Regions from separate parts of the Homo sapiens genome. Here all the other regions are linked to region 3. Evidence: fine-mapped expression QTL. A gene starts in region 3. Each other region holds a variant in brackets. All regions are shown on one strand. Distances are between the middles of the regions.

Evidence for each region. PIP is the estimated chance that this variant, and not a neighbour inherited with it, causes the effect.
Region 1: its variant is fine-mapped to the expression of PLA2G2A in lung (GTEx, PIP 0.96).
Region 2: its variant is fine-mapped to the expression of PLA2G2A in liver (GTEx, PIP 0.96).

Annotation. Positions count from the first base shown.
Region 1 is chr1:19,957,539-19,960,371 of GRCh38, forward strand. No RefSeq gene overlaps it. Among named protein-coding and RNA genes, the nearest start is that of PLA2G2A, 21 kb to the right of the region's middle. The variant G/A (reference allele first, on the strand shown) is at 1,184.
Region 2 is chr1:19,915,033-19,917,532 of GRCh38, forward strand. No RefSeq gene overlaps it. Among named protein-coding and RNA genes, the nearest start is that of PLA2G2E, 7.3 kb to the right of the region's middle. The variant G/A (reference allele first, on the strand shown) is at 1,351.
Region 3 is chr1:19,978,567-19,981,066 of GRCh38, forward strand. PLA2G2A (phospholipase A2 group IIA) reads right to left here and starts at 1,052. Exons shown (of 5, transcript NM_001395463.1): 1 at 1,014-1,052; 2 at 168-313. The coding sequence starts at 207. RefSeq lists an enhancer at 1-195.

The DNA of each region.
Region 1 (2,833 bases), 21 kb before region 3:
CAGTCATGGTTGCAGTACTTCCAAAATTCTCAGCAAGGCCCAATCTCTGAGCAGCTAGTCCAGGAATTTCCCCAGGTGTTAACACCACCTTCCCTTACACATGTCATTCTGAGTGACTGTTCCCAGACACTAAGCTGTTAGGAGTCGGCTCAACTATGCACAGGGAAGGCACTGGTCTTGGAGCTGGTACTTTTCATCCACTCTTCCTGCTCTCCTTGAACATTTGAATACAAACCTGGTTCCAAATGCCATCTCACCACCACGTGCTCTCCTGTTTGCTTCCCTGGATCTGATTCTTGATTACCTTGATTTTCTCTTTTTCCACTCAAATCAACTCCCACAGCACTGAGGTTCTTGTGGACCTTGGACCTCTCAAGGATTTGAGCATGGGGCAGGGACATTCCTGGTCCTGCAGGCTCTCAGCTTGCTTCCCTGGCCTGTCCCGCAATCCCTACCCATCCACCAGGAGGCCTGGCTTCCACTTCCTTCAGCTTCTCCCTGCCCAAGGCCTGCCCTTGTGCCGGCAGACATCTCCCACCTCCTTCCCAGTCTTCCAGGATCTCCTTAATCCAATTTGTGTGTCTATCTCTTAGTTGCCCAGGCCTGTAAAACAAACTCCCACAAACTCGGTGGTTTAAAATAACACACATTTATTATCTTACAGCTCTGGAGGTCAGAAATCCAAAAATCAGTTTTGCTGTGTGCGGATCAAGGTATAGGCAGGGCCGCACTCCCTCTGGAGTTTGTGATTACATTTAGGGCCTACCTGGATAATCCAGGATAATCTCCCTATCCCAAATTCCTTGATTTGATCATATCTGCAAAGTCCTTCTGTCACAGAAGGTTACCTTCACAGGTTGCAGGGATTAGGAAGTAGGTATCTTTGGGATATTCAGTCTACCATAGTCTCCATGGCTGTAGCTTCTCTGAAGGGTGTTTGATCCTTAAGGAGGCAAGTTTTTCTTGCCCTGATACCTGCCCTACATCTCCCACGAGTCCCCAGTTGTTCAAGCCTAGGGGTTCACAGTGCAGGCAGTGCCACTTGTGGGTGGAACCTGGTCTCAGGCTGGTTGACGTCGTCCTGTCATCTCTGCTGTATCCCATTCAAGGAACTTTCCTTCCTCCAGCGAGAAGGAAACCCAGTGAGATTCACCACTCCCAACTATGACGGAGCTCTGGCTCC[G/A]TGGTGAGTTGAACTTGGTACATTGTTCTTCATCCAGAAAGCCTATCACTGAGATGACAAGTATTGCCAAGGAAGAAAGATTTAATCAGGTGCTTGCAAACACTGCCTCCTTGCAAACACTGCCCGCTGCCTGGTGCAGGGGGGAGCACCACTCCCCAACAGTCCTCTTCTGCCCTGAAACCTCATGCAAGGACCTCCCCGAGCAGGGGTGGGGGACCACCCTTCCTCATCAATTCAGACTGTAAAGTGAAACCCCTGTTCTTGGTTGAAGCGTCCATTCTTTCATGCGCGTCCGTGTGAAGAGACCACCAAACAGGCTTTGTGTGAGCAACATGGCTGTTTATTTCACCTGGGTGCAGGTGGGCTGAGTCTGAAAAGAGAGTCAGCAAAGGGTGGTGGATTATCATTAGTTCTTATAGGCTTTGGGATAGGCAGTGAAGTTAAGAGCAATGTTTTGCGGGCAGGGGTGGATCTCACAAAGTACATTCTCAAGAGTGGGGAGAATTACAAAGAATCTTCTTAAGGGTGGGGGAGATTACAAAGTACATTGATCAGTTAGGGTGGGGCAGGAACAAATCACAATGGTGGAATGTCATCAGTTAAGGCTATTTTTTCTTCTTTGGTGTATCTTCAGTTACTTCAGGCCATCTGGATGTACACGTGCAAGTCACAGGGGATGCGATGGCTTGGCTTGGGCTCAGAGGCCTGGCACATTCAGGAACCTTCCCTGCTCTGAGAGGATCCCTGCTGTCACCACACTTGGCCCTCTGCTGTCCTTGTCTGGCTGAGAAGACATTCCAACTCGCTGAGGGTTGGGCGGGACTCTCACCCAGCTGTGGCACCCTTCTGCTCGCAGGTGCCCTGCTAACAGCTCCTGGCTCAAGTCTAGTAGTGTTTTGAGTCTAGAGGTGATTTGCTTTGGGCATGGCTGGGCTCCACTTATCAGTTCCGAGGTCTCCTCATGGGTGCCTCCTCTCAGCCTCCCTCCTTCCCTCCCTTTCTACCCAATTCCAGTCCTCCGCTGCCTGTGGCATGGCCAGCACAAGGCGTGTCCTCATGTCTGAGGCTGGTGTTGTCTTGGGAGCATAGCAGTGGATGTTTGTATACTTCAGAGCAGACCATCTATGGGACAAATCCATCTCTCTCATGTCCTCTTATAGCATAATTACATGTTTTGTGCCAAGTATCCTCTCTCAAAAAGCCTGAGTGAGAAGGAAACAGAAGGAGGTCCTGCAAGCCCATCCCCTGTCAACCTATGTGCCCCTCAGTCCAACTGCTTTAGAGGCGCCCTCCTTCCCCAGGGAAGGGGTGGTATCACGTGTTATTCCCACAAGTCAATGAGCTGTTGCTGTCTTCTGTTCATATAGGAAATCGGAGACTCAGAGAAGTTCAGGAACCTGCTCTGGGTGGCCCAGTGGGTGGGTGACAGAGCTCAGATCTGAGAGGTCCATTTGCTCCTCACCACACCAGTCTTTGTGAAGTGAGAGTAGGTGCGGTGGAGAGACACAAAGACATGACAGCAAAAAGGCCACAATCCCAAAAGCACTGTCCCAGAGGGTTGTAGGAGTTATTAAGAAATTATTTTAGGCAGATTGAGAGGAAAAATGGTCCTTGGGAAGTTTTCGTTTTCTTTTTCTTTAATTAATTAAT
Region 2 (2,500 bases), 64 kb before region 3:
TGCACACACAAAATTACTGGGGTTTGGGGCTGGGTGCCTGTCTGTAGTCCCTCCTACTCAGGAGGCTGAGGCAGGAGGATCACTTGAGCTCAGGAGTATTAGGCTGCAGTGAGCTTTATCACACCACAACACTCCAGCCTGGGTGACAGGGTGAGACCCTGTCTCAAAACCCCAAAACAACAAAGATCTGCCTGACGGCTTTTTAGTGTCTGGAGTTGGCCTGTGTGTGCATTCTAACCTGGCAATGTTACAGGTAGCGCCTGCCTGGAAAAATGCTGCACCATCTATCTCTGCCTTTGGGGGACATTAGCGCAGAATTCAATTGAACAGGTACCTGTTTAGCATCTACTGTGTGACATTTGCAATTGGAGAGCAAAAATACAGAAGGTGGCCAAGCGTAGATGGAGCAGCTAGCATGCCCCGGACACTTTGGATACATGGTCTCATTTGAACTTGAAAACCACCCTGTGAGGCTGATGGTTCTATTCAGGAATAAATAATTGTCCCAAGATCACAGCTTAGTAGCAGAGACAGGATTTGAACCCAGAGCAGTCTGCCGCCACCATGCAAGGACCCAAATAACGGGATAAGCAGTTCTAGGAAAGGTATAAACACAGCTTGGCAGTTCAAGGAGGGTGAAATCCGCTCCAATTGAAACAGCATCATAGAAAAGGTGACATTTGGGACTGGGCAGGGTGGCTTATCCCTGTAATCCCAACAGTTTGGGAGGCTGAGGCAGGAGGATTGCTTGAGGCCAGGAGTTTGAGACCAGCCTGGCAACATAGCGAGACCCGGTCTCTACCAAAAATAAGTAAGTTAGCCAGAATTGATGGCACACACCTGTTGTCCCAGCTACGTGGGAGGCTAAGGTGGGAGGCTTGCTTGAGTCGAGGAGGTTAAGGCTGCAGTGAACTATGATCGTGCCACTGCAGTCCAACCTGGGCAAGAGGGAGACCCTGTCTCTGAATATAAAGGAAGAGACGACATTTGGGATTCACTTTAAGCCCATGGATTTTAGCGTGGTGATGTGCCTGTGGGCAAGGGAGGCTTTTAGGTTGAGAGAAGCTACTGCACAAGGATATGAAGGCAGGACAGCAGAGGAGCTTAGTAAATAGATATTGCTGCATAAGAGGCTGGAAAAGCAGATGACACCAAGCCTGGAATACCAGGGGCTGGTGGACAATGGGGAGTCACTGATGGTTCAGGAGCAGAGGAGTGACATGATGAAAATCAGGCTCTGGGAAAATGAAGCTGGCATCAGTGGACAGGATGGAGATGTGATGAAGGATGGAGGGTTTAAGAACCATTAGTCCTGATACTCTCTTGTTAGGGGTGTCACATTACTTGCTA[G/A]TGTAGAATTATTGCTGTTTTCTGTCTGCTGGTTGACTCTGTCTGATTCGTGTCTATCTCCAGCATCCAGGAAAAGACCAGAAGCATAATTTGCATAAAACTTATTGAAGGAAAGAATTAACTTTAGTATTCAGTTCTCTGGTGGTGACATTGCAAAGAACCCCAGTGAAGCAGATGCATGTCCAGGAAATCCTAATCAGACTCCTCATTGAACTTGGGAATTCCACTGTGATTTCTGGTCACTAATTGAGGAAGGTCTTTACCTTTGCACTTCATGCATAGCTTTTGTTAGGTGCTAAATAGGAACAAAAGCAAAACCAATCCAAATCCTCTCATCAAAATTGGAGAGGCAAACTATGAAACATTTAGGTAAGAATGTCCCCTCCCCAGCTTTGACACAGTCCCGTTGCCTACTTTACTCATCCAATGAATTAGCACACATAAAGCACTTACAACAGTGCCTGGCAAATGCCTAGTGCACAGCAAGTGTTAGCTATTGTTAATGACTATCCATTCATTCATTCCTAGAACACGAGTGATTTTTCAGTGCTAGCCATTATTTGTACATTTTCATGCATGTTATCTCAAACTTTGCCATAACCAGCCTGCTGGGGAAATGTCATACTTCCATTTGACAAATGCAGAGACTGAGACTCCATTTATCAGCACTTAGATTTTAATGTGCACACGAATCATCAGGGGGGCTTGTTAACTTACAGATTCTGATTCAGCAGGTCTGGGGTCAGGTCCAAGATTCTGCATTTTGAACAGGATCCCTGCTGCTGCTTCTGCGGCTGCCCCTGCCCATGGACCACGTTGAATAGCAAAGGTCTAAGCAGAGCCACTGCTGCTAAAGCGGCAGAACAAAGCGCTCTACCTGGAACCTCCCAGTTCAAGTTCAGGCTTCTCCCTTCCTTTTTTTCAGTCTCTTTTGCAAGTCTGCTGCTGGGTATCAAGGGTTCTCTAGATACGCACACATAGGCAAACAGGATTTAAGCAGGCCCCTTGATCCCGTCATCAAACATTTATTGGCCAGGCGCGGTGGCTCACGCCTGTAATCCCAGCACTTTGGGAGGCCGAGGTAGGCGGATCACGAGGTCAGGAGATCGAGACCATCCTGACTAACACGGTGAAACCCCGTCTCTACTAA
Region 3 (2,500 bases):
TTCTGCGCCCTCCCTCTCTGCCCCTCTCTGCTACTCTCCTTCCTCCCAAATGGCTTCTTTTTTCCCCCTGAGAGAGGATCACTGCAATGGGAGAGAAAACTAAGGGACAAGAGTGCTTCCCTTCTGGGGCTGTCCCCCCATGCTCAGAGGTCAGGGTCAGCTCTTACCAAAGATCATGATCACTGCCAACAGTAGGAGGGTCTTCATGGTAAGAGTTCTTGGGTGACAAATGCAGATGGACTGGCCTAGCTCCTCTGCTGGGTGGTCTCAACTTCTGCCCCGGCCGTCGCTCCCCTGCTCCTCCTTGGTGGCTCTGAGACACACAGACATGCTCTCCCATCCAACCTAAGTCCAGGGTGACTTCCTCTGTCACACTCAGAGCACACAAGGAGTGCCCTCCAGCAATGCACACACACACACACACACACACACACAACCACCTCCTGACCCGTTCCCAGCTCTGCAGAATGGTTTCACACACATCAGGCCCTCAGACCTGTGGAGAACCCCATGATACACTAATGAGACCTCCCCTGTACCTCATCAGACTGAGAGTTCTTGGGAGGTTGGAACCAGGTTCCTCCCAACTACCTGGGAGGTTCCTGAGGTCAGAGGATGTGTCCCTCGCTAGACATAGCTTGCATATCCCCACACTGGATTCAAGGCTTGGAGTCTCCAAGGCACCCATGGAGGCTCGGCCTCAGTATTTTCCTCCAGAATGAAAGCATCAACCTCTCTCTTCTAGGCCTTCTAACCCCTTCCACATACACAAGTTCCCAAACACATACATGTTAACACACCTATGCCCACATACACACACTCTCGTACTTACCTGATAGTGCCAACATCCTCTCTTACACTACACTCACATACTCACTCAACACACTCATGCACACACACCCTCTCATACATATCAAATCATGCACATGCATGCACAACACAGCCACTCTCAAAGGCAGCGAATGAGCAGGAATTCTGCTCTTGACAGGACATCAGCTTCGCTGGCTCTTTACCTCTCAGAGGACTCCAGAGTTGTATCCCCAGGCCGTCTTGTTTGTTCTGCACTCCTGCTCCCCTTAAATAGCTGCTCCCTCTGGGAGGTTGGGGGTAGGTGAGGCACAAGGCTGGGGATGGGCGTGGTCAGTTGGTGGACTCAGGATTGGTCGCCCATACCCCTAGGTAATCCCTTTCCTTCCCCTCATCAGCTGGCAGGACAGAGTTGAGGATTGGGAAACCTTACGTGTCAGTAGCTGATGCCAAAACACATTTCAGGCAGTTTTGCAGTCTTTCCATGGAGTAAATTCCCATAACCAGCTCTGGGTGTGATCAACGGTCAGCCACCTCCCTGCAATCGCCTCTAAGGGGGGCAGAGACTGTCTGCTGTTGCAGGCTGTGGACTCATTTGCACACCCAAAGGGACTACCAATTGCTGAGCAAGGATTGCTCCCTTCTGCTCAATGTGGCATTTGGGAATAGAAAAGAGGGCTTTTAGTGGTACTCATTCATTCAGCCGCTCAATCATTCATTCACAGGAAGTATGTCCTGGGCCTCTACCATGTTCCAGCACCTGTGCAGGCCTCACGTGTGCACCCCACAGTCCACCAGGGAGAGAGTTTAATGGGGGTGGATTTCCCTTCCCACTAACTTGGGCCAGGGCCTCAACTTTCTCTTCTTATTCTTCTTTCTTCTTTTCCTCCACCCCTGTCTCATATGAGCTTCTAAACCTGGAAAAAGCCAGAGGCTATCCTTGAAGTTCCCACCAAAGCACTGCCTTCACTTTATTCCCCATCCTCACCTGTTTGGAGACAGGGCAGGTGAATGCTCCCTGGATCTGTTGCTCTTTTTCCTTCAGCCTTCGGGCTGACACTGACTCCAGCTTTAATTCATAAAGTAAATATCTTTTTCATTGCTCTCCAGCACATGCTAAGAATTTAGCTTCCACCGCCTTAAGTAAACACTCTGCGATACCAGTCCTAAAAAAGTCACTGTGGCAGGGGCTGTGGTGCTTGTGAACATTCCATCTGTTCCCTACACTCTAGAGCCCCTTGCAGGGATGGAGACCTAGGGCCCTGCTGCTGACTGGTAAAACATGAGCACTGGTATGAAGGGTCACTTCCAGGTTTCTCCAGCAAGGGGACTATGAGATGCAACTCCCCAGCCCTTCCCTGCCCCACTGGTAGAACCAGAAGATGAAAGCAATCTGGGGTGTAAGAATCATGGCACGGAAGACAGTTGTCCTAGAAAGTCCTGCAGCTCACAGGGGTCTTAGTGTGAGTGAGAAATAGACTTTTGTTGTATTAAGCTGATGATAATTGAGATGGGCAGTTGCTGGAGCATAACCTAATCTATCCCAAGAGCCATCAAACAGCTTTCCTCTCGAGAATACCATTTACCTCCAGTGCTCGACTGTGTAAGGGGTTGGACTGTGGTCCTCCTTCCTGCTCTCAGTTCCTGTGTTGGAGTCCCGGTACCTTAGAATGTGATCTTATTTAAAAATAGG